Linked DNA regions of Homo sapiens. The protein of the gene in region 7 purifies or fractionates together with the protein of the main gene of each other region. This does not show direct contact. Each region holds a gene or a part of one and is shown on either strand. Other genes may lie near its edges. The genes, in order: RBM6, MTHFD1L, CADPS2, PFKFB3, DHX36, GLO1 and ASB12.

Region 1 (4,217 bases), on a different chromosome or scaffold from region 7:
CTTCATAGGCTGTGCTGATCCCTCCTTATAAGAAGATGGAGAACAAAAGCAGCCTCAAAAGATAGTGCATACATTTGCCAAATTATATAATACAATCAAAATAGGTGCTTTTTATTATTTGTAAGTTTATACTTCAATGAAGTTGATATCTTTTTTAAAAGGTGGTGTTAGGGTCTCTAGGTAGATAACACTCCTCTTTCCTGCTTAGCTTTTAAATTAGTTGAGTTAATGAACAAGTGTTGAATAGCGCTGCTGAAATAGCATCTTTTACTATTAAAGGCTAAGCTGGAGGAAGTAGCTTAGTGTCAGAGTCAAATGGACTTGCTACCTCAACCACACAGTTAGGGTGAATTACCCAGTCATAGGCTTCACTGGCCTCTCTCATGATGGTTAAGAACCCACCTATGGGTCAGGCACGGTGGCTCACGCCTATAATCCCAGTACTTTGGGAGGCTGAGACGGGCGGATCACTTGAGCTCACAAGTTTGAAACCAGCCTGGGCGACATGGCGAAATCCTATCTCTACAAAAAATATAAAAATTAGGTGGACATGGGGTGTGTGCCTGTAGTCCCAGCTACTTGAGAGGCTGAGGGAGGATCGCATGAGCTGGGAGGCAGAGGTTGCAGTGAGCTGAGTTTGTGCCACTGCGCTCCAGCCTGGGTCATAGAGCCAGACCTTGTCTCAAAAAAAAAAAAAAAAAAGGAAGCCACCTGTGGAGAGCCAGGCACAGTGGCACATGCATGTAATCCCAGCAGTTTAGGAGGCTGAGGTGGGAGAATTGCTTGAGCCCAAGAGTTCCAGGCTGCAGTGAGCTATGATCACAGCCCTGTACTCCAGCCTGGGTCACAGAGTAAGTCCCTGTCTCAAAACCAAACAAAAGAATCCACCTATGGAGGACTGTTAGAGATAGTGAATTCACAAACTGAACTGGCCATAGGACAGTGGAAAGTAGATTGTAGTATTTTTCCTTTCCTTAGAGTTGTCTACTACAAAGAACCACCTCTCCATGTAAGAGCTGCTTTGGACTCCTTAAGTTTTATATTATATGCCCGAGGGCTTGTATAGTGGAGGGCTTGTGTACTTTCCCCTGCTTCTCAGAAGGGGAAAAGACAGCGGAACCAAGCGTGCCAACTTATTCTTTCCAAATGTTTAAGTTAGGAAGTCACTGCTTTCTCTAGAAGAACGTGTAAAGGAGTGAGAGATTCCAGGAGTTACCAAGTGAGCTACTTTCACTTTAAAAGAAATAACAAGGCCGGGTGCGGTGGCTCACACCTGTAATCCCAGCACTTTGGGAGGCCGAGGCTGGTGGATCATGAGGTCAGGAGTTCGAGACTAGCCTGACTAACATAGTGAAACCCCGTCTCTACTAAAAATAGAAAAATTAGCTGGGCATTGTGGCACTCACCTGTAGTCCCAGCTACTTGGGAGGCTGAGGCAGGAGAATCGCTTGAACCTGGGAGGCGGAGGTTGCAGTGAGCTGAGATCACGCCAGTGTACTCCAGCCTGGGCAACAGAGTGAGACTCTGTCTCAAGAAAAAAATAATAATAATAACAGCAATGGGGTAGAATTTCCCCACTCCCCAATTCCCTCAGGTGGCAATCTCAGGTCTGCTCTTCTGCTTACCAACAGGGAAAGTTTAAAGGAAGAGGAAATGATCGCAGGGAAAAGCTCCAGTCTTTTGACTCTCCAGAAAGGAAACGGATTAAGTACTCCAGGGAAACTGACAGGTAAGCCAGGAACTCTTCATTCAGCCTAGGCCTCAAGCCTAATGATAAAACCACCTCCTCCTTCAACTGTACTGCTGTTTTCTGTCTCAGGGAGATGATATTATGAGTAGATTCTGTCTGAACTGCTAAAACATGAGGTCTATGCCAGCCTTTTTACTATCTGTCTTTATACGGGGAGTGTACATGGAAGGTTGGCTGGCAGCTTCGCCTTCCCAAAGCCAGGGCTGGAGTAGCCATGATCGGGAACCCTTTCTGTCTTCATCAGTAATACTGCACCCTCTTTACGGGCCTGATAAGAATGTCACACTCTTGGGCTTTTTCTCTAGGGAACCTCCATTCTCACACATAGGTGCTAAATAAATGGTTGGCTGCTGATGGAGATGTATGATATCTAGCTTCCTATACTTGTTTTCAGTCAGCTAGTTCCCAAGTTGTAAGCCCAGAGTTATATAGAATTTGTTGATAACCCACTGTTTACAGGTGTCAAGTGCAAGAAATACTCAGGTGGACAAGACATAGATTATCCTTGACTGAACACAGAATAGACAAGACTTAGGTGATGGTGCGTCTCATAGGGCAGACACAGAAATCAGTGGGGAAGGGAAGGGCATTTCAGGGAATTTCATATACCAGGGATATAAGAGCTTATGATGTGTTTGAGGAGTTGCAAATAGTTTGATGGTCCTGAACACTGCAGGTATATTGTTGAGTGACAGTAGATAAGCCTGGTCCAAAAGATGCAGGCCAGTTCATGAAGTTTAAACACCTTGAACACCTTGCTAAGGCTTTATCTTAAAGGCAGTGGACGGTCATGGAATAATTTTAAGCAGGGTATTGACTTAGCTTTGCATTTTGGAGAGATTACTAATCATGTGGAAGATGAGTTTGTAGAGAGACTAATGCATTATGCAAATTCTATAGTAATTCAAGTGAAAGATCATGATTGCCTGAGTGAAGGTGATGAGTCTAGAAAGGAGAGTGGCCTATAATCCCAACACAGAGAGGCTGAGGAAGGAGGATCTCTTGAGCCTAGGAGTTCCAGGCCAGCCTAGGCAACATAGGGAGAAGGGAGACCCTGCCTCTATTTAAAAAAAGAAAAGAAAAGGAGTGTGGCTTAGAGAGAGGTGTCAGATCTGCCAGTCTTTGTGATCACCTGGGGAAAGGGAGAAGTCACTGATGGTGTTCAGGTCTCTGGTCTCTGGATAGCTAGGAGGAGAAGGGACAGTAAAGTCCTTGAAAAGGAAAAATGGGGGCCAGGCGTGGTGGCTTACGCCTGTAATCCCAGCACTTTGGGAGGCCGAGGCGGGTGGATCACAAGGTCAGGAGTTCGAGACCAGCCTGGCCAAGATGGTGAAACCCCTTCTCTACTAAAAATATAACAATTAGCTGGGCGCTGTGGCAGGCGCCTGTAATCCCAGCTACTCAGGAGGCTGGGGCAGAAGAATCGCTCAAACCTGGGAGGCAGAGGTTGCAGTGAGCTGAGATCATGCCACTGCACTCTAGCCTGGGTGACAGAGCAAGACTCTGTCTCAAAAAAAAAAAAAAAAAAAAAAGAAAAGGAAAGGAAAAATGGGGCCAGGTGTGGTGGCTCACACCTGTAATCCCAGCACTTTGGGAGGCTGAGGCAGGTGGATCACTTAAGGTCAGGAGTTCGAGACCAGCCTGGCCAACATGGTGAAACCCTGTCTCTACCAAAAATATAAAAAAATTAGCCAGGCGTGGTGGTGGGTACCTGTAATCCCAGCTACTCGGGAGACTGGGGCAGGAGAATCGCTTGAACATGGGAGGTGGAGGTTGCAGTGAGCCAAGATTGCACCACTGTACTCTAGCCTGGGTAATAGAGCGAGACTCCAAATCAAAAAAAAAAAAGAAAAGAAAAGAAAAGGAAAAGTGGGTAACAAGTGGATGCATGAGCAGAAGGAAAGGGAGATAATTGACAGAGCAAGGCCCTTGAGGAGGCTGGACAGGTTTTGGGGCTCTGGCATTCCAGCTTATTTGATCCAACCCACAATAAGAGAAGTATTTTTGTATCATGGCCCAATAATAAAGTGTGTGTGTGCACAACTGAAAAAGTTTTCATCTAAAATACTTTCTTACCAGGTACAGTGAACCCTGATATTTTTATTCAAGTCTAGTCTCTCTTCATTTTTATGAGTTGTTACAGTGGGACCATTTAGTGTGACATTCCATTGGGTCATTCTCTGCAATTTGAAATACAGTGGATTAGGACTAGGTGAAGGAGTCAGCCATCAGGAGGAAGGACACCTTGGCCTTGAGTCTTCTGGGACAAGGCTTAGGTGGGGTGCGGAAAGAGACCCTTCTTTATTCTCAGCACCCTTTATACCACATTCTCCTGGCTCTTCTCCTTTCCAGTCACCTTTTCTGCTCCTCTTCCTTTTCTGGATAAATCCAGGTGTTCTCTAGGACTCTTCTCTCAGTGCTTCTTTGGTCTTGCTGCTCTACCCTCTTGACCTGGGCTTTCTAAGGT
Region 2 (3,403 bases), on a different chromosome or scaffold from region 7:
CCCACCCTCTACCCTAGCACCCCTCCTGTCCCAAGAGTCATTGACCCTCAGGTCAAGGGATACCAGAGCCACTACAGTGAGGCTGGCCGTGTCTCTGAAATATTTTCTTTTTTTTTTTTTGCCCTTCTCTCTTCCTCGGCGCTGCCTATGGAGGTGGCAGCCATCTCCTCCTCGGCATCTTGGCCGCCCTCAGACCCCTTGTGAAGCCCAAGATCGTCAAAAAGAGAACCAAGAAGTTCATCCGGCACCAGTCAGACCATTATGTCAAAATTAAGCGTAACTGGTGGAAACCCAGAGGCATTGACAACAGGGTTCGTAGAAGATTCAGGGTCCAGATCTTGATGCCCAACACTGGTTATGGGAGCAACAAAAAAACAAAGCACATGCTGCCCAGTGGCTTCCGGAAGTTCCTGGTCCACAACGTCAAGGAGCTGGAAGTGCTGCTGATGTGCAACAATCGTACTTGTGCCGAGATCGCTCACAATGTTTCCTCCAAGAACCGCAAAGCCATCGTGGAAAGAGCTGCCCAACTGGCCATCACAGTCACCAACCCCAGTGCCAGGCTGTGCAGCGAAGAAAATGAGTAGACAGCTCGTGTGCACATTTTCTGTTTAAATAAATGTAAAAACAGCCATCTGGCATCTTCCTTTAAAAAAAAAGAAAAGAAAGAAATATTTTCTTTCTTTTCTTTTTTTTTTTTTTTTTGAGACGCAGTCTCGCTCTGTCACCCAGGCTGAAGTGCAGTGGCACGATCTCGGCTCACTGCAAGCTCCGCCTCCCGGGTTCACGCCATTCTCCTGCCTCAACCTCCAGAGTAGCTGGGACTACAGGCACCTGCCACCACGCCCAGCTAATTTTTTTGTATTTTTTTAATAGACACGGGGTTTCACCGTGTTAGACAGGATGGTCTTGATCTCCTGACCTCGTGATCCACCCGTGAGCCACCGCGCCTGGCCTGAAATATTTTATTTTTGTTCATCTTTGTTGTGCTTATAATACTCCTGTTTTCTGTTTATTCCCCTGACTTGAACCAGATGTTAGGGGAGTATTTGAAGCTCCTCGTTCCCTCTCTTCATCAATATCTTCTGTCTAGAAACTAACCAAGCACCTTATCTGGCTCCAGACCTCTCAGTGATCTGTGGGAGGCCAACTCGCAGGATTTCAGCAGAGTTTGCACTTTCTAGGCCTAAAAGATAAGTCCTTCCATGTGTAAGTTCAGATTAAAGGCAACATATTGCATTTACATTTTAGAGAGGTGAACACATTATTTTCTGGGACTTAAGTGTTGTTTTGTTTCTTTTTTTTTTTTTTAATGTAGTTTATTTCTCTTTCTAAGAGATTACAGGATTCAAGAATGGCAATGAATCTTAATAGCCTTTGGGAGAAAGCAGCAAAGCTTTAATACTAAGTTCCAGGACCATGAACTTCCATGTTGTCCTAAATGCATTTTTCAAACATTGCTTTCTGTGCCTACTCTATAAAACCTAAAAATCCAAGGTGACAGTATTCCTTATCTAAAATCCTAAACAAGGCTGGGCGTGGTGGTTCATACCTGTAATCCCAGCACTTTGGGAGGACAAGGCAGGCGGATCACTTGAGCCCAGGAGTTCAAGACCAGCCTGGCCAACGTGGTGAAACCTCGTCTTTACTAAAAATACAAAAATTAGCCGGGCATGGTGGTGCACACTTGTAATCCCAGCTACTCCGGAGGCTGTGGCGGGAGGATTGCTTGAACCCGGGAGACGGAGGTTGCAGTGAGCCGAGATCTCGCCACTACACTCCAGCCTGGGCGACAAAGTGAGACTCTGTCTCAAAAAATTAAAAAAAAATTTTTTTAAATCCTAAATATTCTCATTCCACAGGATCCTGCAAACTGTAGATCCCAAACTTGGAAGTTCTGGGAATTCTGCCAGTATCCCCAAGTAAATCTCTTGGGAAGTTTAGAATGCTGCATGGCGTAGCTGTGCCTGCTCTTATAGAGTGGTGCAGACTCTGCTTCTCCACGTCTGCTAAGTAAAATATTCCAAACACAGATCAGCCTTATCTAGCGAACCATCACTCTGCTCTTGAATTTTCTTTTGGCCTCAAACTCTAGAGCTATAACATGTTAACGGTTTAACACCAGAGGAGAAAGCTATTCTTAAACTACTCAAACATGGTTTTTTTTTCTATTTTTCAGACTCCTGAAACAGACTACTCTTTGCCTTTTTGCTGCAGTTGGAGAAGAAACTGAATTTGAAAAATGTCTGTTATGCAATGCTGGAGACATGGTGAAATAGGCCAAAGATTTCTTCTTCGTTCAAGATGAATTCTGTTCACAGTGGAGTATGGTGTTCGGCAAAAGGACCTCCACCAAGACTGAAAGAAACTAATTTATTTCTGTTTCTGTGGAGTTTCCATTATTTCTACTGCTTACACTTTAGAATGTTTATTTTATGGGGACTAAGGGATTAGGAGTGTGAACTAAAAGGTAACATTTTCCACTCTCAAGTTTTCTACTTTGTCTTTGAACTGAAAATAAACATGGATCTAGAAAACCAACCAGCAAGTTTTCAGTGCCAGATAAAACTCTGCGCTCTAGAGGTAACTCCTCATGGGAGGCAGCTAGGAGTGTTACCTGACACCAGTTTCCTAGAAAACTGTGACAAGCAAAGCAATAACACACGTCGAGAAATATCTGATCAAGCGGGAAATCTTCTGACTGTCGGGGATCTCTAGTAAGATCTCTTGGAATGAAGTGCACTGTGTATCCAAAACTATTTTCCAGCGCCAGTGAAGTTGCTCTTACCTAAAACAAATGGGTTTATGCTAGTTTCCACCAAGGAATGAGTCTCGATGGCCATTAAACTTTCTAAGGCCCACAGGGCTAGGAAAAGTCGCTCTTAAAGGTCAGGTGTTTGGAAAATGTTTTTCCTTTTGCCCAACCCTTAATTAGTAGTAGAGAATGTTCTGTGGCCTATTCCCCTCTCTGGGAGTTCCTGACCCTTCTTTGTTTTCCAGTTTTTCCTACAATAATATAAAATTACGTAAAAGTTAAAACAAAACCAAGGATTCAGGAAGAAACAAGCAGTGATTGTCCTCTAGGCAGCGTAAGGAAAATAGTCACCATAAATATCTTAGATGCCCCCCAGGCACATCCTGCAGGATCTTTTCTGCATCCTCTTGTCCTACACCCTCCAGTGACCCTGCTCAGCCATTGCTCAGCCCATAATGCACCTTTATGCACAATTTGTCCCAAAACACTGTTTAGTAACTCAAAAGCCTCCCACTCAAAAGCTGTCTGTCCCAAGAATAATTTCACTTGGCAATTCTGAAGTGTCCTTCCCCATCCCTGCCCTTTATTTGGGAGTACACCTCTCCAAATATACAGTTAACTGATGTTTTACTGTTTATTTGGAGAGGT
Region 3 (4,217 bases), on a different chromosome or scaffold from region 7:
ACTCAGTTCCTCTAATCTACCAAGCTGTACACTGTGGATGTGAAGGGAGATTTTGTTTGTTTGTTTTCTCTTAATTGTATGATATATATGGCAAAAGGAGAAATAAAGGTAGTGTTTTTTTCAACACTTTCACTGTAGTATCAGAATGGTGTTGTCTAGTTCTCTTATTTAATGGTGCATTTGAGGCACTGAATATTACGGTGAAGAGATTTAAGTGAGTAAAGTGCTACGGGAGTGTTCAGTGCTTTGCTATGATTGGTCCCTAGAGAACTTAAGTCTGAGGGCATTTTGGCTAGACAAGGAGATCAGGAGGAATTACTGGCAGAATGAGAAGAGAAAAGCAGTGTAGGTTTGTGATAGAGCTTTGACGCTGAGGCCAGGGTGGAGGGCAGGAATAAGCTTTTCATTAGTCAAGAGCAAGAGGTGCCTTTTTTTCTAAGCTAGCTCATAAAGATATATTTAGCGAAACAATGTGGTGCTTTAAACAATTTATTTTTTTTTAATTTTACTTTAAGTTCTGGGATACATGTGCAGAATGTGCAGGTTTGTTACATAGGTATTTTCCCCTGTGCTGTTGTAATAAATGAGTTTATTTCTTTAATTTTCTTTTGTAAACTAGAAATATAAATTTTAAGTTAGTATATGTGAAGCAATTGTGGGAAAGCTGAGAACAAATGAATCATACAGCAGCTTTTTTTTGCTTTTGCTTTTATGCTTTTTATGGTTAAATTTCAATATGTTTTAATGTAGGAATATTTTACTTTCAAAACACTTGTTTCTGTATTAGCCTATGTACTTGCATAATGGAAAGTAATAACCATTTGCCAAAATATTATATGTACTCTTCTATAAGTTACCTTCTAGAAGGTAACTTCTATAAGTTACTGTAACTCTTCTATAAGTTATCTTCATACATGGGGTGATAGCACTCCTGTAGAGTAATTTTACCATAATAGTGAATGCTTAGCAAATCTTGGCTCCACAGTTAGATATAAGGACCTGAAACGCATTGTTTTTCTCCATCTTCAGAGCACCCTGAATGTCATTTCTCTGTCAGACAATACCTTGCACTAAGTTGGGTTTTAATAAGCCAGAAAAAGCAAAAAATGAAAATAAAAGATTGCTTCCCTACCTAGCCCGTTTTATTTCCAGTTCCTGTCTCATCTTTACCTGTAATTGAGAAATTCAAGGACCCTATGTTCTACACACGTGTAGATAGACAGAAACCACCATGGTGACAGAGGCACATATGCATGAATAACGGCAAAGGTACTGGTTACTAACATAAGGATTTTCTTGCATAAAACATAATTTTGGGGATTTGCAAGAATCTTTATCCTAGAGATTGGTAAAGAACAGTTACAATGTTTGTTCTTATGTACACAATATAACTTCCTTAGTAAAGTATACATATCCATTTTACCTCTTTGTATGAAACCCTACCACCATATTTATTTCTATTTTGTTCTCCTTGCCCTGCCTTATTAAGAATTGTAGAGGAACAATTAGAAGGCTGAACAAAGAAAATATTGGATCATTAGAGACTTTATATGGTATTTTTTTCACTGATGGCAATTGATGCAGAAAAGAAAAAACAATGTATTAATGGTATACCTAATTAACGGGGAGTTCATGATGTTCATTTTTCCTTTTTCTTCTAGCAATGGCTCAGCAACATCAGAAGACCTTTTTTGGAAGCTTGATGCACTGCAAATGTTTGTCTTTGATCTGCACTGGCCAGAACAGGAATTTGCCCACCACTTAGAGCAAAGACTTAAACTAATGGCCAGTGATATGCTAGAGGCCTGTGTCAAAAGGTAGACATGTATTTTCAAATTGCTGCTTAATGTGCCAGCACCCAAAAATATCACTTTTTATCAAGTACCTAATATATTATTGTCACAGCAAAGGTTTCATTATGCACCACTATTCCAACATTTAATGAGTATTAGGTTATCTTGATTAAATTCTGGGGACCCATGTAATTGATGAAATTGGCTGGATACTTTTTTTCAGGTCTCCCAACTATTGCCTTAATCAGTAACATCTATACCATATTAATGGTTTCTTTAGGGCTTATTGTTATCTCTCTGGGAATACTATGCTTTAAATTCCCAAGGTAATATCTCCTGAGACGTATGAAAAAGGTCTGTTATGTTCTGTATGCATTATGTACTGTGTCTGTGTGCTGTGAAATGGCATAGTAAACTCAAAATAGGATCAGCACCATCAGTTGTTCTGGGATTACTAACTATTTTCTGTCCACATCAGATGAGTTCCAACTATCTGCTTACATTCTTTATCACTTAACTGGAAATAAGTTATGAGGCTTCATATTCTTCCAAATGTGCTTTCATTTTATCGTAGTTTTAAAAAATCAGCTTTGCATCCTAATTGGTCAAGCATTTTTTTCCCATTGTCCTTGTTCATTATATATACAAGGACAATATGGAGCCACATATTAGAAAAGTGTTCAAACACTGGTTAGACCAATTGGATATTTCTGAAATCTTGAAACCAAGAAAAAATCTGTCTTTAGAATAATGTTCAGTGGCCCCTTAAGGCAAGGCCCTGGATTAGGTAGTTTAATGTTTTTTAAAAATCATCTTTGATTTTGATGTCTCGATTCTGTGGATTTTCATAGGATACTTCAGCAAAACCAATTCCAAATTGCTCATGATGCAGTTCCTTTCAAAAACCTGCCTGCAATTTTAGGTTTTTGAAAGAGAATGTAAGTGACATAAAAGAATTACACATTGTCTGTTGTACATTGATTACCATGTTTTAGGGTTTTCTAGGTTTGTGCTTATTTTTTCTAATTTGGTAAGACCTCACATAGAGGATATATTCTGCTTAAATGCATACAAGTGTGTGATTTTTCTACTTGGAAATTCAGACAATTAATTCAGACAATTAAGTGAAATTATGAGTTTTTTTTCCATTAAATGTGGTACTCTAGATATAACAAAAAGCTTCATTTGGGTGGCAATACTGCCTGAGTGACTGCATGAAGCTAGGCTTAATATAAAAATATGACAATCTGATCTTTCATTGAGACACTTGAAAAGAAAAGCATCCCACCCCTTAGCTCCCAAGCACTGCCACACTGCTTACTCCTTATTTGCATGTTTTAAATTAGCATCTTGTAGTGTTGATTTCACTTTTTACAAAACAGGTGAGCTGTATAGCAGAATTTCTTACTCTGAATTCATGTTTTAAAAACTAGAACAAGAACTGCATTTGAACTCAAGCTACAAAAGGCAAGCAAAACAACTGACTTGCGCATTCCAGCTTCCGTTTGCACTATGTTTAATGTATTAGTCGATGCCAAAAAGCAAAGCACCAAACTCTGTGCCCTGGATGGAGGACAAGAGGTATGTAGAATGTGCCACATGGGGAAAGGCAGCACAGGGTGCCTTGGCATGGGAAATGCCCTTTCCACAAGGCATTCTCTTGATTGGATTGAAAAGACCAAGTTCTCTAGCACCAAACGTTTGATCTTTACTATAATAACAGAATGCCCTTTATCCTTTGCTCATGTCAGTTTCTCCTTTTTGATATAAATATGGTCTAAAATTGCATTAGTGGCCATGAATTTTAGATATAGCTTTTAACAGCTGAAGTGTTGTGTCATTTACATAAACCTTGCTTTTTACAAGCAAATGAGAAAGCTGGAAAGCTACCTGTTTTGTTTATACAAATCTAGAGTATCCAGAGTTTGCATCTATAAAAGTAAGACACACGAAAAAGTGTGAAATAGTTTATTTACACAGTAGCTTCCATTTTTAAAAATTTAGGTTGAAATAGACTTAAAAATCTAGGCCTAGTTCTTATCAATAAATATCCTATTCTTTCTATTTTATTTATATTTTGTTTGGTTTTATATTCAGAAGTACAATTTTATTTTACCCCATGATTTTTTGTTGAGAGTGGTGATTGGGTGAAAATTGATTTATTTTTCTTCAATTATCTGTTTTAAGTTGATTTTGTTGCCTTTTTTTCCCATTGTAATTACTTTTTCTTCATTTCTTTATTCTTCCCTTCTGTTCTCTTTCATCATCTTTTTTTTTCCACCCATGGCATGATCCAGTTTGGTAGTCAATGGGTAAGTCTCATTTTTTTTTCTAAAAGCACATTTCATTTGAGTTATTATTTTTGTAAATGTATATTTTTTATTTTCATCTTTTCAAATTAAAATTATATAAATTTATTTTCAG
Region 4 (4,217 bases), on a different chromosome or scaffold from region 7:
ATGTCAAAAGCTACCTGGCGAAAGAAGGGGGACAAATTGCGGTAAGTCCAGGCAATGTAGCCGGCTCGGTGTCCAGTCCCACCCATGAGGGTGTCCTCACCGGCCTGGGGTGTACCGAGACCTGTGCCTCTGGCCCTGAGGGTGGAGGAAAGCAGGTGGCCAGGGCAGCCCAATGGCTCAGGAAGGAGGATGTGGGGTGGACTCAGGGACCCACCCCCTCTGTGGCCAGTCCCACACCTCCAGGGCGGGCAGGACTCGAGTTACCCACAGGACCACTGGCCCTTCCTTGTACACTGTCCCATTGCACATTACTGTTTTGCTTGTTTGCTTTTGGGGTATTTCCCCCACGCTACCACCCCTGAGTGCTGTTGGTAGTTGCGGGAGGCCTGCCTCCTAAGCACTCCCTGGAGAGGACTGTGGGCAGGCACAAGCTCCCCTGAAGCACTTTTGGGGCTTATTCCTGGAGATGATGGGTCTGGCATCTTTGCTGTTCTGGTAAACGTTGTTAAACTCAAACTTAGAGTTTTCTTCCTGGCCCTTTGCTCTCCATATCAGGTTTTCGATGCCACCAATACTACTAGAGAGAGGAGACACATGATCCTTCATTTTGCCAAAGAAAATGACTTTAAGGTGAGCTGAGCGTCTTGTGTTGTGCTAGAGGGCTCGGGAGAGAGGAAAAGGCTTCAGGAAGCGGCCTGAGTCCTGCTTGGTCCTTCCCCTCCTGCTGCCCATGTTCCTTAGTCCTGCTCGGTCCCTCCCCTCCTGCTGCCCACGTTTTGTGGCCTTAAATTTGGGCCTTTGTGTGGTAGGGCTCTTGGGGGCCATGGGGCGTTCCAGAGGCTGCAGTGAGGAGGTGGGCTTTCCTGTGTTTGGGAGTTGGTGGGTGGCGTGCTTCCGCCTTGTCCGGGTGATGACATCGCAGTGATGGCAAGGTTGATCCTTCGTGGTGTTTGTTTTCTAACATCCCCACCTCACTTCCACCAGGCGTTTTTCATCGAGTCGGTGTGCGACGACCCTACAGTTGTGGCCTCCAATATCATGGTAAGACAGCCGGGAGCCCCGTGCTTCTGCGGCAGCGTAGACCACAAGGGCATTTGCAGTCTGAGGAAGTGGGGGACCGGGTCCGGCTCGGAAGCGCAGCTGAGCCCTTAGGATGAGCAGCCCCCAGCTGGCTGTTGATTGGGAGGTCAGACCTACAGAGCGGTTTTTAACCCAGAGGCCTGTCCTGTGAGGGACTAGCTCCATCCAGGGCAGTGGGCAGGCTTGGATGGGACGTAGGAAATAATTCAGGGAGATAGGATTAGTTTCTGTTGGTGGCAGGAGCCTGACAGCTAGTGGTGATGGAGCTGCTGGGGCAGAGGGCCGCTCACTGCCCCTAATGGGACAGGTGGCAGCAAGTGGATCACTTGCTACAGCTCCAGGAGGTAAGAATGCTTGGGCATTGGCAAAAGTCCATAGGGCTCAGCAGCCTCCTGAGTTTGGGAGGTAAGACTCTCCTCCTGCTGATGCATCTCGTGAACCTGCCACAAACCCTCCTGTCTGTGCTGTGCAGGGGAGCTTGCCCAGATAAATTGAGGGCACTTGGCATCATAACTTGATGAATTTCTCCAGTGTTACCACTTGATAGCAATATATATAAACAGGAATGGTTACTATGGAGACTTACTACAAGCTGCCACCCTGTGTTGGAGATAATTTCCTCTTCAGCTTAAACATATCAGAATATGACAATTCTATAAAGAAAAGCAGTTCTGAAAACTTAACACTGGGACGCTGTGGTGCTGGCATCTTTGCACCTTTAGAGGGGATGCTAAGCATGTGTTAGCCCCGGTATCTTCCCCAAGGTGGTGGAAGTATTTCTAGATATCTTTAGGAAATGAATTCCTGTTTCAGGAAGGGCTATTTGAATTGTGAAAAGTCAGTTTAGATTTGTCCAGTGGGAGCAGGAGGCTCAGAGTATGAGGGTTTGCCACCTTTCTTTGGCTGGGCACTCGTTGTTCCCCTTGGTAGACAGCAGGGTGCAGCTGTGAAGTCATTTTTCCCAGTGAGTGGTCACCAATGTGCTTAGCAAGGAGTTTAGCATTTGTCTGGTTGTCCACTAGCAGATAATCATTTGCCCCAACCCACCATGTTCAGAAATCTCTTTCTGATGAAATCTCAAAGCAGCTTGGTAGAGCCAGGCATTTGTGAACTTAGATTTTTTTTTTAAATTGTGGTAAAATATACATAATGTAAAATTTACCATCTTAATCATTTTTATTATTTATTTATTTATTTATTTATTTATTTATTTATTGAAACGGACTCTCCTTCTGTTGCCCAGGCTGGAATGCAGTGACACGGTCTTGGCTCACTGCAACCTCTGCCTCCCGGGTTCAAGCGATTCTCCTGCCTCAGCCTCCCGAATAGCTGGGATTACAGGTGTGCGCCACCACGCCCAGCTAATTTTTTTTGTATTTTTAGAGGAGACGGGGGTTTCACTGTGTTGGCCAGGCTGGTCTCAAACTCCTGACCTCAAGTGATCTGCTTGCCTTGGCCTCCCAAAGTGCTGGGATTACAGGCGTGAGCCACTGCATCCGGCCATTTTAGCTATTTTTTAAGTGTGCAGTACAGCAGCAAATTATATTCCCATTGTTGGGCAACCGCCACACTCTATCCGCAGGACTTTCTCATCTTCCCCGGCTGAAACTGTGCCAGGACACAGGCACAGCTCCCGACTGACTCGATCTTTGAAGAGTGGCTGCCTCTCAGTGACGGCAGTGGTTGATGAGAAAAAGAGCCCAGGCATTCAGAAATGCTGAGTTTCCCTAAAATCCACCTGGTTTCTGGGGCCTGTGCCACTGTGGGTGTTGGTAGACCTGTGTTGTTGCCTAGGAGAGCGAGCCCTGCAAAGGAGCCGGCACAGCCCTAGTTGGAGAAGCAGTTAACCACGGACTGGTCACACTGGGGCTGCCTCAGGCAGTGGGGGGTGGAGGAGAAACCACACAAGGCCAGAGGCATCTCTGGGAACTCCTGAGCATACCTTAGAACCAGCAGCCTCCTCCCGGCACGGGGAGCATTGCGGATCCTCACGTGGAGCTCGGTTGAGTTCAGCGCCAGGCTGTCTGGCGGTGACTCGGGCACGGGACAGATCCTGACTTGCTGGAGCATTCAGAGGTGTTCATTATGGAATCCCTGTGGGTTTCCTGTCTCTGTCCTTCCGGCTTCAGTTCTCCATCTCCCCAGGGAATCCTCCCCATGTAACATCAGGCTGTGACTCAGCCCCCAGCATCTTTCTCCCTTTCTCTTACACGCTGGGCCGGATAATCTTTATACTGAGCCTTCTGTGCGCTCCCCTTTTGAAAGCCCCAAATCCTGCTTAATCTCAGCAGAAAGCCTTCCAGCGTGATTTATCAGCCACCCCTTTGTGGTGTTGCAGGAAGTTAAAATCTCCAGCCCGGATTACAAAGACTGCAACTCGGCAGAAGCCATGGACGACTTCATGAAGAGGATCAGTTGCTATGAAGCCAGCTACCAGCCCCTCGACCCCGACAAATGCGACAGGTGATTCCCGTGGCTGGCCGTCTCTGCAAGACCCACATGAGGGTTCTTACTGAATTCTTGATGTTCCCACAAAGGATTTGCTCCTGGATACCTTTAAAAAAATTTTTTTAAGACAGTTTTTTTTGTAGAGATGAGGTCTCGCTATGTTGCCCGGGCTGGTCTTGAGCTCCTGGCCTCAGGTGATCCACATACAGCCGCTGGATACCTTTATCAACTCTCTTTGAAAATATCTTTTAAAAACAATCCTTGATGACAAATCATATTCAGTGGGAATATTTTGAACACTGTGTAGAAGTACAGGAAGTCAACATAGAGTTGAGCCTGATTTTGCTACTGTCCCTCCGATAGTTCCTTTCTTTTTTCTTTCCTTTCTTTCCATTTATTTATTTATTTATTTACTTACTTACTTGCTTGCCTGCTTGCTTAGAGACAGGGTCTCCCTTTGTCTCCCAGGCTAGAGTGCAGTGGCATGATCATAGCTCACTGCAGGTTCAAACTTCTGGGCTCAAGTAATCCTACCGCCTCAGCCTCATGAGTAACTGGGACTACAGGTGTGGGTGTCCACGCCCAGCTAATTTTTTTTTTCTTTAGTAGAGATGAGGTCTTGCTATGTTGCCCAGGCTGGTCTTGAACTTCTAGACTCAAGCAATCCTCTTGCCTCGGCCTCCCAAAGT
Region 5 (3,500 bases), on a different chromosome or scaffold from region 7:
AGAGCAAGGCACAGTAGGGTTCGATTTCTGTTCCTGTCCCCACATTCTAGTTGCTATTTTGATGATTCAAACTGAGAATTTTTGCTAACACTACTAAAATCTGTTGAAAAGTATCAAATAGGATAGATATCTGTAAGTTTTCTGGTTTAGTATAGTGAAACACCACAGGCAAGCATTTGTAAAACAGAAGAAAACAGTAAAGAGGGCATATGCCATCACATTTCAGACTACACTGAACTGGGTATTCGAAGCCAGTGAGAATAGAAATATCCTCATCTTCTCCCAGTACACATACACTCCAGCTATGTGACATGAGGCCTGATACTGGACATTTAACAGATCTACAAATTAGTAAACAAAAAAATCTAACATACCAAATCAGAAGTGCCCAGTCATTAGCAAAATGGAAAAAAAGGATCACCACAATTCGGAAGGAAAGGAAAAGAAAAAAAAAAGAGTGGAATGCCATGTTTCAGTAGAAAACACCTTTAAACTGTTTCATAATATGGAATAGCTAATAAGAATATGAATTCAGCAAAACATAGGTTAGAAAATAAACAGTAGAGTGAATGAAAAGACACCTGAGCTAAGAAAACAAATTGAAGATCAAAAGAAATCACAAGGAACAGAATGGACACCCCTTAAAAACAAGTTATTGCCATAGGAAAAAAGCTTGAAGTAATCACAGTTTATGGAGGTACCTGAAAAAGACAAAAATTAAAGCAATAAGTAAAATCTTAAAGACAGGAAGACAGGACTCATCCATTATGAGAACAGTAGACATTAGTGTCTGCATACAAATCCTGTGTAATTGAACGTTTATTTTGAGATGTATGTAAGAACACGTTTTGAAATGGAAATAATGAAATGAACAGAGAAGTGAACAGAAGCATGAAAACATAACTGAATCCAAGTGTTTGAGAATGTCATGTCCAGTCAGGATATGAATTCAGGTGTAAAGAAAAACAACAGGCATTCAAGAAATACTGTACCCCTGAGCTCTTCTTGAAAAGCCCATTGACGGTGAAATGCTGTTAGTTAAAAGGGGAATCACAGTGGAGATTTCAGGAATGGAGAGTGCATGCTTAATCAGCTGGTGTATATACATTAGAAGTATTTAAATATAGAGCTAATAACAAAATGGTGTTAGGAATTACACATGCAAAATAGAATGTAAAGATTATTATCCTGAACAGTATAAAATAATGGCAGTAAAAACCAGGAGGTGTCTAAGAAAGTCAGGTGTCAGAAAAATTAGGTGGGGAAAGTCACACCTTTCATAAAAGGGATATATACTTAAATATAACCAACTTTATGTTTCATAATCTCTAAAAGGAATTCCTTAGGAAATATTTCTGTTATGAAAATACAAGATTCATCTGGTCATTCACTTTCCTTTCTATTTAACTTTTCTTTAAATTGTACTAAAGTTAATTGTTTTATAAAGAATTTCTATACTATGATTCTGTTATTAGGATGCATTTCTTCTATCAGTATATATACTTAATGGGTGTCTGCAATCTTATTTATTTAGAAGACTGAGTATTGAGGCAAGGGAAGTACTTTTCTATGTTACTTGAATGCTTTGTAATAAGCCATGTATCATTATTTAAAAAAAAAACAAAACCTTAAGCTTACCTGCCATTTTTAACCATATTTAATTCTCAGTAATAGAAATATGGATGTGGATTATTTTCTTTATGCTTTTCTATATTTTTTAAAAAATGGGGGTGGAAAGTAATTTTAAAAATTCTATTAGTCTTTCACAAAATAGAGTAATCCTTAAACATCAGTGGCTATTCCTTACAACATGCAAACTTTTTCTGTGAAAAGTCGGGTAATATTTTAGGCTTACAGGCCATAAGATCTCAGTTACAAGCATTGACCTCTGCCATTGTAGTGCAAAAACAACCAAATGTAGATGAATGGGTGTGGCTGTGTTCCAATAAAATGTTATTGACAAAAACAGCTTTTGTAGTTTGCCAACCCTTGCTTTAAAACATGTTTGCTAAAGTGTTTTCATAAAGCAGGGATAGCTTACAACTCAATTTATCTATTAGTGTATGGTTTATAGCCTCAATGTGTGAAAGGTATTCTAGTTCTATTTGTTACCATTGCTCCCTAGATGCTGCATAACATGAAAGGACAGTTTGCTGAGCATCTTCTTGGAGCTGGATTTGTAAGCAGTAGAAATCCTAAAGATCCAGAATCTAATATAAATTCAGGTACAGCAGGAAACACAGTGTAAATAAGTATCTTTTGTCTATTGTATCAGTATTTTACTTTTCTTTTCCCCTCTACCTTCTCACCCCCCATAGATAATGAGAAGATAATTAAAGCTGTCATCTGTGCTGGTTTATATCCCAAAGTTGCTAAAATTCGACTAAATTTGGGTAAAAAAAGAAAAATGTAAGCATTGAAGATTATTATTAATTACTCGTAATTCTCTTCTTAAACTTTTGAAATCTGCTCATGTAACAAGGCTTATATTATAAATTTGTTCTTATTCATATGTGGGTTATATTCTTGTTCTTTTAATCATTTCAGAGAAGGTGAACTGTTTAGCCATTGGTATCACTTTCCCTCACAACACATCCTGGAATCACCTCTTTGATAACCCATTATTCACAAAGAATGCTACCACATGATACCAGTGTAAATATTAGAAGAGCCAGCCTGCTAGTAAATACCAGTGGCTGGATAAAAATTGCTTAGAGTAGATTTTATTTCAGAAACTTTTTTCCTCTTGCCTTATAAATGGATAACTTAGCTCTTTGAATAACATTGTGATTTCACTATTTTGAGAAATAAAGTGTAATAATATATTTACAGGTAGCCTCAGTAGTAATTGGAGACAACAGTGAAGCATGAGCTAGAATGAGCTCATTCTAGCTAAAGGATACAGAGAAACTAAGAGTCACAAATGGCCAGTAGTGTGGTTGCTGCTATTTTGGAAGACACTCTGTATTAGAATTATGATTGAATCATTAAAATAGTCAGTGACCCAGTGCATGAGTTTTTAATTTGATAGATGTGTCTTAAGGAAGTAATTTCAAATGTTTTCTAACAGCTATATTGTAAATAATATAGATTTCTAGTAGCCATGGGAAAATTGTGGTTTTATAATACTGTAATGCATCTCCATAGGTGGGCATTAAAACAGTCATTGTGTAGTAACATGTAAAGTATTTAAACTGATGTTAAATGAAAGTTGGATATTCTAGAATTATAAACATGAAAAAATAAAGACTTTAAAGATAGGCCAAAGTGCAGACATTGTTCTTGGGCAGTGGTTCTCAACTGGCATGATTTTGCCCCCAAAGGGGACATTGGAAAGTGTCTGGAGATACTTGTGGTTGTCATAACAGTGTGTCAGTAGTACTAAAGTCAAGAAACCCTATTCCAAGGTATAAAGTAATGGGTAGCTGATGAATTTTAATCATTGTGGTTGGATTATTCACATTTTAAGTGACCTAAGTACTTTTTCAAAATAATACTTG
Region 6 (4,217 bases), on a different chromosome or scaffold from region 7:
ATGTAAAGTAGCATATAAACGTGGTAAGATTTCAAAGATGTTACTTGCTTTTCAGAATATCTATTCCCTAGGACATTGTAGCTATGTTTTCCTTCCTTTTGTAGCAATTGGGGCACTGAAGATGATGAGACCCAGAGTTACCACAATGGCAATTCAGACCCTCGAGGATTCGGTAAGTTTGCCTGTTTTTATGTGATATATGTAGATTTGTGTGATTTTGTATTATGTATATAATTATGATTTTAATAAACCTAAAACATTAATGTCCTAATTAAGTATGATCAATTTATTAGAGATATGATTATTTTTATTTTCCACAAATAATCTTATTTAGGAGTTGTTTAATTTCAGAGTCTCGATCTAAAATTACACTTACCATCTCACCATGATTTACTTTTAAGTCTCAGAATTAATTTCCAGTAGACTTTTTTTTTTAAAAAAGCTGTAGTTAATACTAATCCCAGTTTCTGCTAGCACATACACTTCTGCCTTGATCTCCAGTCTCTCAATCAAGATGACAGTATTGCAGGCTTCAGCTGGCTGCTATAGTCAATGCCAACCACAAACCTATTAAGTATTAGTAAATGATTACTGTTTTTTGGTGTCGATTATTCTTAACTGATTAGACTGTATATGAGCTGATATTGATTAATTTTAAATAATTTATAATTCAAGGCAACTAATTAACTACTTATACCCAGCCCATTAGATCTATATTTGTTCTTTAATGTATTATAGATTTTGAACCTACCTAAGTCTGTTCCCAAGTGCCTTATGTTTTGAAATAAACAAGTTTTGGAATCTACTTGTGGTACTTGGACACCCTGTTATAATTATTTCTTCCTTCTCTCTGCTTTTTTCGGGGGGTATCACGTAAGGTCATATTGGAATTGCTGTTCCTGATGTATACAGTGCTTGTAAAAGGTTTGAAGAACTGGGAGTCAAATTTGTGAAGAAACCTGATGATGGTGAGTCTACTACTTACTGTGTTCAGGCCTGTCTTTAGTTGATATTTACTAACCACCTACAGAGGCCACTGTTGTAGTAAAACCCTTTTGGCTACAAGTAACAGAAGTCTCCACTTCAACCAGAGTTTTAAAAAAGAGAAATGATTGGAAGAATATCTGGGTATTTTAGGGAACTGAAAGACAGCAACTAGGGTGGCTTTCCAAGGCACTAGACACAGGACCTGGACAGCCATCAAAACCCTACGCTTCCTCTCCCACTGCCCGACCCCACCACTTTCTTTCATTGGCCACCAGCTTTCACTATTTCAGTGTATATCTTTCCGCCCAAAAATAAGTTCCTTAAAGTCCATTTTATCTGATGCTCATATAATGACACCAGCTCTCTTTAGTTTATAATCACATGGTATTTCTTTTTCATCTTTTATAACCTTTGTATGTCCTTAAGTTTTAGGTAGGTTTTTTGAAATAGCCTACGTATGGATTTTGCTGGGTTTACATGTATTGTTATTATTTTACTTAGATCTCTTTCTGAACTATTTCAAATTAAAATTGAAATATTAAATATTTCAGAGTCTCAATCTAAACATTTGAAATATTTCACTGTTTAATTTCAATCCTTTTTTAAAAAAATTAAAATACTTAATATCCAGTGCTGGGCGTGGTGGCTCACACCTGTCATCCCAACACTTTGGGAGGCCAAGGCGGGCGGATCACGAGGTCAGGAGATCCAGACCATCTGGGCTAACATGGTGAAACCCTGTCTCTACCAAAAATAGAAAAAATTAGCCAGGCATGGTGGTGGGCGCCTATAGTCCGCCTACTCAGGAGGCTGAGGCAGGAGAATTGCTTGAACCTGGGAGGTGGAGGTTGCAGTGAGCCAAGATCGCACCACTGCACTCCAGCCTGGGCGACAGAGTGAGACTCCGTCACAAAAATATATATATATTTAATATCCAAATCTTCTCCCCAATAAGAAAGGAATTTGCTTCACTCTGTCCTCATTGTGTCACTATTACCTAGAGTGGGATAGTATTGATTTTATTTTTTAAAGATAATAATAAATATATCACGGTGTTTGATCACTTTTTCTTCATATATCTCTTGTAGTGTCTCCTTTGAGACAGGATCTCACTCTCATCCAGGCTGGGGTGCTGCAATGGCACTGTCATAGCTCACTATAGCCTTGAAACTCCTGGGCTCAAACAATCCTCTGCCTCAGCCTCCTCCTAAGTAGCTAGGACCACAGGCACATGCCACCACACCCAGCTAATTGTTTTATTTTTTTGTAGAGATGAGTTCCTGCTATGTTGCCCAGGTTTGTCTCAAACTCCTGAGCTCAAGCGATTCTTTCACCTTGGCCTCCCAAAGCACTGGGATTACAGGCGTGAGCCACTATGCCCAGCCTTTTTAGCATCTTTTGGATTTTTCTGTTCTTTTATTTAAATACCTCAACCAAAATGGTCTTTAAAGGGGTTTTGTTTTTGTTTTTTGAGACGGAGTTTCGCTCTTGTTGCCCAGGTTGGAGTGCAATGGCACGGTCTTGGCTCACCGCAACCTCTGCCTCCTGGGTTCAAGTGATTCTCTTGCCTCAGCCTCCCGAGTAGCTGGGATTACAGGCATGCACCACCGTGCCTGGCTAATTTTGTATTTTTAGTAGAGACGGGGTTTCTCCATGTTGGTCAGGCTGGTCTCAAAATCCCAACCTCAGGTGATCCGCCTGCCTCAGCCTCCCAAAGTGCTGGGATTACAGCTATGAGCCACCGCACCCAGCCCTTTAAAGGGTTTTTAAGGCAAAACTTTTGAGATTCTGTGTAACTGAGGATGATGCCTTTATGTCTGAAGGACAGTTTTATGGAAAAGCCTAGGTTTAATTTCCTTCAGTCTTGAAAATACTCTTCTATTTTCTTTTTGCATATGATGTTGCTGTTGAAAAATCTGTCAATTCATGTTCCTTTGTATATTCTTCTGTTTTATTCTAGAAGCTTTTTATATTATTTCTTTGTCACTGCCTGCATTCTGGGAGATTTCCTCAAACTGGAATACCAATTAGCTAATTTTCTCCCAAATGTATCTGTTCTGATATTTAATTCATCTATTTTGTTCTTAAACACCTGTTATAATTTTGATCTCTAATTTTCGCTTAGTTTGCTTAATATGTTCTTGTTCTTTTTTTCATATTGGTAATATTTCATATTGTTTATTACTTTTTTTTTTTTTTGAGACAGAGTCTTGCTCTGTTGCCCAGGCTAGAGTGCAGTGGTGTGATCATAGCTCACTGCAACCTCAAACTCCTGGGATCAAACAATAATCCACCTCAGCCTCCTGAGTAGCTGGGACTACAGGCAAATGCCACCATGTATGGCTAATTTTTTATTTTTTGTAGAGACAGGGTCTTACTATGTATCTCAGGCTGGTCTCAAACTCCTGGCCTCAAGTGATCCTTCTGCCTCAGCCTCCCAAAGTATTGGGATTACAGATGTGAACCACCACACCCGGCCGGTCATTACTTTTACATGTCTAAATAGTCCTTGGGTCTGGGCATGGTGGCTCATGCCTGTAATTGCAGCACTTTGGGAGGCCGAGGCAGAGGATTGGGAGGTTCGGGAGGATCACTTGAGGCCAGCAGTTCAAGGCTGCAGTGAGCTATGATTGTGCCATTGCATTCCAGCCTGGGTGACATAGGAAGACCTTGTTTCTACAAAAAGGTTTTTTTTTAAATTATCTGGGCATGGTGGCACATGCCTGTAGTCTGTATGCCTAGCTACTCGGGAGGCTGAGGTGGGAGGATTGCTTGGGCCCAGGAGTTGGAGGCTGCAGTGAGCTATGATCCACTGTACTTCATTTCAGTATAAACGACAGAGCAAGACCCTGTCTCCAGAAAAAAAACAAAAATAGCTCTTGGTCCATTATTCTAATATTTCTTCTGTTTGAATCTACAGTCCATTGCTTTGGGGGTGTTTTATGGTTATGTTTCTCAAATTATTATTTTTTGCCTCTGAGCTTTTTTCCCCTGCAACTGTTCGCTATTCTAACACATCAAGCAGTGTGAATAGGAGAATGGCCAGATCCCTGTCCTTAACAACCCACATGATCTCAGGACAATGGGCTGGATAAGCCTAGGCCAGAGATTCCTAGGCACCTAGAAATGAGACTTAAATTTATTTCACCTTCCACAAAACACCTCTTCAGGTTGGATCTTCCCACTTCATCCCTCAGGGAAGAGTATTAGTAGGAGACACTTCCGATAGT
Region 7 (4,664 bases):
CATTAAAAAATCCTGCAAATCTTTTTTTCAAGAATAACACCTTACTCTGTCATCTTTAGCATCATAATAGCTTATTTGTTGACTGCTAATTGGGCTTGCATGAGGCCTCAGACAAAGTCCCCTGGCTCAAGCTAAGCTGAAACTGGTATGCTTTTTGATGTTTCTGATCTTCAGAGTCACTGATCACACTAGGACATTCCCACATTTTCCAGAGGAGTTATCTGGTCTTCTGTGAGCTCCCTGGCACTATCAATGTGCAAGCAGATTGCTTGACCACTTCATGAGTGAGGTAGACAAGACTGGGGAGGGAACTAAATAGATAACAGATTGAAAGAAATAGTTGAAGGAGCTGGGGCTGTTTTCCCTGAAACAAGGTGACATGGAGGATATAATATCTGGGTTCAGATCCCTAGAGGGCTGTTTTGGGGCAGAAAAAGTGAGAGCTGAGTTTTTGACAAAGTTTCCAGTGCTGGACACATTAAAGTAATGGTGATGCTTTAGGGTGAGGATAGTGGGAGGTTGTGGGCATTTTCTTCAGGCTGAGCCTGGTGGGTCAGTGGACTGGGAAGGTCTTTATAAATGACCAAGGCCTTCTTAAGCTTTAGAAAAGCTGAGTGAGAACACATTCTGTTATGGAGGCTTCTCCTTCCTACCTTCCTCCTCACTCTGAGCAGTGAAGGAAGGGGAGGGGCAACGAGTTGGAGGATATGCAGAGAGGCTCAGTTCAGAAGAGAAAAAAGAAGAGATTCCTCAGGGATATAGAACTAGAAATACCATTTGACCCAGCAATCCCATTACTGGGTATATACCCAAAGGATTATAAATCATGCAGCTGTAAAGACACATGCACACGTATGTTTACTGCAGCACTGTTCACAATAGCAAAGACTTGGAACCAAGCCAAATGTCCAACAATGATAGACTGGATTAAGAAAATGTGGCACATATACACCATGGAATACTACGCAGCCATAAAAAATGATGAGTTCATGTCCTTTGTAGGGACATGGATGAAGCTGGAAACCATCATTCTCAGCAAACTATCGCAAGGACAAAAAACCAAACACTGCATGTTCTCACTCATAGGTGGGAATTGAACAATGAGAACACATGGACACAGGAAGGGGAACATCACACACCGGGGCCTGTTGTGGGGTGGGGGGAGGTGGGAGGGATAGCATTTGGAGATATACCTAATGTTAAATGACGAGTTACTGGGTGCAGCATACCAACATGGCACATGTATACATATGTAACTAACCTGCACGTTGTGCACATGTACCCTAAAACTTAAAGTATAATTAGAAAAAAAAAAAAGAGAAAAAAAAAGTGTGCTAGGCTGAGGCTGGACCTTCTCAGTGCCCCCTGGTGGAGGTGTGGGAACAACCGCAGCTCAGGGGCCTCACCCTGTCTCCCATTTGAGTGGCAGGGAGGGATATAGGAGGATAGGCTGGGAGCAGGAACCCTAGCCTCACCAGGCACCTGTCTATCTGTCAGTCAGTCCTTCCAGGACTTCCCCATGGGAGAGCCCCTCCTCTTACTGAAATCGCTCCCAGAATGGCACTGGTAAGATAACACGGCCTGGGAAGAGGGGGTGGAGGGTAGCCTAAAATTAGCCCCTTGGACCAAGACTAGGGACTGACTCCTAGTCTTTCAACGGCATTGTTAACAGTGGGAAACGAGAGCCCCAGCTGCTCCAGGTTGGGGCCGTGGGGGCTCCCTAAGGAGGGGACACCAGGGCCCCAATGTTTCACAGAGGGGCGGGGGGCAGCGACCCTGGGCAGCATGGCCTCAGGCTGAAGCCCGGTGAGTACCTGGAGCCTAGGACCGGTTTGAGAAGAGTGACCACTGCGGGCCCACAGACCTGTGATCACCCACTTCCCGTTGTAGGCTGTTTCCGCTGGGTCTGGGACGTGGTGGGAGTTGGGGGAGGCGCTTGGAAGGTCGTTAGGGCAACCCACCAGGAGGAGGGAGGAGGGATATAATGCCAGCTCCCTGCCTTGTGTGTCCCAAGAGGATATGTCTGCCTAGGACCTCGGGTCTAAACAGACCTGCTTCTTGAGAGCAATTGTGATTATACACTACAGGAAGTGTGGAGATTTGTCTTTGTGTCCCTGTGTGGTGTTGGCTAGTCTGTGTGTGTGGGTGCCTTAGAGTGGGTTTAAGGGCATAAGGGCAGAACTCGTAAGGGTGAGAGAAGGAAGATGAGGCTTAAAAACGTTCTGCTAATGCCTGAAGGAATGCTCTAGGATGCACGGAAACCAACCACTTTCCTGTGGGAGTACTTAACCTGGATTGACAGACACCAAGAGGGCCTTAGATAGAATTCAAGGGGTCCAGAAACTTGGATGAATAGACAATTACCTTTTTTCCCCCTAACCTCTAACTAAAATGTACTATTTCCTTCAAGGATGAATGCAGGTATCAAATGGCAGTAGCATAACCAGTTCATGTAATTTGGTTACCAGAAGAAACCACAGATATTTCATATCATATTACAGTTGTGGCAGAGATCTTGAAATGTCATTTATTACCACTTAGAAATTATTACTAGACCTTTTTATTTAATGTGTTACTAAAGAACATCTCTTACTATATCATGCATTTAAAAATATTTTGACAGTCACATTTTAATATAATTGGTTTCCTTTAATTTTATGTGTTTTATGTAGCAAAAACCATTCTGAAAGGTGTTTACAGACTTTGCTAGTTTGTCACAGGAACCAATATCACAAAAAAAAAGGTTTAAAACTCCTACATCTTTAGGATCAGGAAGGAGCTACGTGCACATAACAGGCACATAGTAACTCTTTGATTAATAAACTACAGCAAAGTGAGGTAAGACAACAGGCTAGCTGGATTTCCTTGTCCTTATCTAATGGAGGCACGATTCACTCCAGTGCCACAGCCAGCTGGAGAGCATGGCTTGGTCTCCCTCTGGAGGCTCATTATATGAGCTCTGCTGTGGGCTCTTGGTATGAACCTTAGCAAGAACTTCAGCACTTCCCTCTGCCACTCCCTGCCAATTATCTGCCCAGATCCCAGTCGCCAAAATAAAATATTAAGGAGGGAATTCCTACCAGTTATCAGAATAAATTATTTGTAAAGGAACCTTCCATTACCGAAGACCCTGGAATTCAGCATGACACTCAAAAGCTGAAGATCCTGGGAGCTGCAATGTGACTGCTGGAGTCAAGGGAGGGGGGTATGTGTTTGTGTTTCATCTTGTAATAGAAAGAACAGGAGGAGGAGTAGAGAAACCTGGATTCTATTTCTGACTCTGCTTTTGCCTTGATGTAAGGTATATGGAAAACCCCTTACCCTCTCTGGACTCAGTTTCCTCCATCCAAAAAATGGGGATAATATTACCTATTTTGTTACATGAAATTGCTTTGAAAAGCACAGGATTATAAGTGTGTTCTGAGTTCTTGTTAATGAGACAACTAACAATAACAACCATGTGACCTTACCAAAGTCCCTGCTCTGCTCTGAACCTTGGTTTCCCCATCTGTAAATTGAAAAAATTAAATTAAATGATCTACAAGGTCCCTTGCAGCTCTGAGGTTCTAGAACATTAAGTAGGGAGCAATAGCCTTAGAAAATGGAGACATAAGTAACAATCATCATCATAGTAAAAATAGTTACTGAGAACTACTTTCAGGCACTATTCTAAGCACTTACTATGTACTAACTCATTTAATCCTAAGAACCCTCCAAGGCAGATACTATTGTTATTTTGTCTTTACAGATGAAGAAATGGGCACAGAGAGATTAAGTGACCTGCCCCAGGTCACACAGCTACTAAATGCTAGAGCTGGGGTAGAAGCAGAACTCCCATGTTTTGCCACTACCACATAAGGCCTCTTTATCTGCACTAGGGCAAACAAAGACCCATATAGAAGTTACAATACAGTGTGATGACTGCTATAGTGCTATAACACAGACTCTGCAGGAATTAACTTGGCAGAAGGAGTTGCATGTGGCAGAAAGAAACATGGTGTATATGGAGAGCCATCACTTTTTGTCTCTTGTCACTGGACCTCAGGATATAAGTCAAGGAGTAGTAGGAAGTGAGGCTGGAGAGATTGGCCAAGATTTATTCATGAAGGACCTCTGAGCTGGGCTAAAGTATTTGGGCTGTAGCTGGAAAGAAAGGGGAGCCATTAAGGTATTTAAAACAGAGGATTGGTAGAGATCAGATATGTATTTTTAAATTACCACTTTAGCAACAATGTGGAGAAAATATTGAAAAGAGAAACTACCTATGAGACCACTATAACTGCTGAGGCAAAAGGCAGTGGGGGCCTAGATGAAGCATAGTCAATGAGAATGGTCCCTGAAGAGCACAGATGGTCTGGAGAAGTCTTTAGTAGGTAAAATCCACAGGACTTGATGGGATTTTATGAGAGTGGGATAAAGAGGCAAGAGCATTGACAGGAGTCTTGGTTTTTGGTTTGGTTGACCAGGTAGATGGTGAGGAAATGATATATGGATCAAGTTTAGTCATGGTGGTAGTGGTGGTGATGTGATACTGCTGTCTTTGAAGTGCTTGAAGAAACTCAGTGGATACATGCCTGGAGCTAAAGAGAGAGCTGGGGGCTCGGATAGAGACGCTTAAAATAATCAGAATAAAGGTGAGAGCGACTGGAGAGAAGAGGTTGGAG

The links.
Region 1: the proteins of ASB12 (region 7) and RBM6 purify together in Homo sapiens (affinity purification with mass spectrometry, with the first as the bait; one large-scale study listed by BioGRID). This does not show direct contact.
Region 2: the proteins of ASB12 (region 7) and MTHFD1L purify together in Homo sapiens (affinity purification with mass spectrometry, with the first as the bait; one large-scale study listed by BioGRID). This does not show direct contact.
Region 3: the proteins of ASB12 (region 7) and CADPS2 purify together in Homo sapiens (affinity purification with mass spectrometry, with the first as the bait; one large-scale study listed by BioGRID). This does not show direct contact.
Region 4: the proteins of ASB12 (region 7) and PFKFB3 purify together in Homo sapiens (affinity purification with mass spectrometry, with the first as the bait; one large-scale study listed by BioGRID). This does not show direct contact.
Region 5: the proteins of ASB12 (region 7) and DHX36 purify together in Homo sapiens (affinity purification with mass spectrometry, with the first as the bait; one large-scale study listed by BioGRID). This does not show direct contact.
Region 6: the proteins of ASB12 (region 7) and GLO1 purify together in Homo sapiens (affinity purification with mass spectrometry, with the first as the bait; one large-scale study listed by BioGRID). This does not show direct contact.

The regions. Positions count from the first base shown.
Region 1 is NC_000003.12:50,068,824-50,073,040, forward strand, and holds part of RBM6 (RNA-binding protein 6), read left to right. Parts: intron 1-1,631; coding exon 1,632-1,729; intron 1,730-4,217. UniProt on the Homo sapiens protein: Specifically binds poly(G) RNA homopolymers in vitro.
Region 2 is NC_000006.12:151,099,347-151,102,749, forward strand, and holds the end of MTHFD1L (monofunctional C1-tetrahydrofolate synthase, mitochondrial isoform 2 precursor), read left to right. Parts: intron 1-121; exon of another isoform or gene 122-649; intron 650-2,179; 3' UTR 2,180-2,541; downstream 2,542-3,403. UniProt on the Homo sapiens protein: May provide the missing metabolic reaction required to link the mitochondria and the cytoplasm in the mammalian model of one-carbon folate metabolism complementing thus the enzymatic activities of MTHFD2.
Region 3 is NC_000007.14:122,386,183-122,390,399, reverse strand, and holds part of CADPS2 (calcium-dependent secretion activator 2), read left to right. Parts: intron 1-1,661; coding exon 1,662-1,817; intron 1,818-3,226; coding exon 3,227-3,374; intron 3,375-4,090; coding exon of another isoform or gene 4,091-4,105; intron 4,106-4,217. UniProt on the Homo sapiens protein: Calcium-binding protein involved in exocytosis of vesicles filled with neurotransmitters and neuropeptides. Probably acts upstream of fusion in the biogenesis or maintenance of mature secretory vesicles.
Region 4 is NC_000010.11:6,216,151-6,220,367, forward strand, and holds part of PFKFB3 (6-phosphofructo-2-kinase/fructose-2,6-bisphosphatase 3), read left to right. Parts: coding exon 1-41; intron 42-555; coding exon 556-630; intron 631-984; coding exon 985-1,041; intron 1,042-2,398; exon of another isoform or gene 2,399-2,421; intron 2,422-3,368; exon of another isoform or gene 3,369-3,418; coding exon 3,419-3,543; intron 3,544-4,217. UniProt on the Homo sapiens protein: Catalyzes both the synthesis and degradation of fructose 2,6-bisphosphate.
Region 5 is NC_000003.12:154,279,488-154,282,987, reverse strand, and holds part of DHX36 (ATP-dependent DNA/RNA helicase DHX36), read left to right. Parts: intron 1-2,125; coding exon 2,126-2,225; intron 2,226-2,318; coding exon 2,319-2,409; intron 2,410-3,500.
Region 6 is NC_000006.12:38,678,763-38,682,979, reverse strand, and holds part of GLO1 (lactoylglutathione lyase), read left to right. Parts: intron 1-104; coding exon 105-172; intron 173-878; coding exon 879-968; intron 969-4,217. UniProt on the Homo sapiens protein: Catalyzes the conversion of hemimercaptal, formed from methylglyoxal and glutathione, to S-lactoylglutathione. Involved in the regulation of TNF-induced transcriptional activity of NF-kappa-B. Required for normal osteoclastogenesis.
Region 7 is NC_000023.11:64,227,605-64,232,268, reverse strand, and holds the start of ASB12 (ankyrin repeat and SOCS box protein 12), read left to right. Parts: upstream 1-1,661; 5' UTR 1,662-1,806; intron 1,807-4,664. UniProt on the Homo sapiens protein: Probable substrate-recognition component of a SCF-like ECS (Elongin-Cullin-SOCS-box protein) E3 ubiquitin-protein ligase complex which mediates the ubiquitination and subsequent proteasomal degradation of target proteins.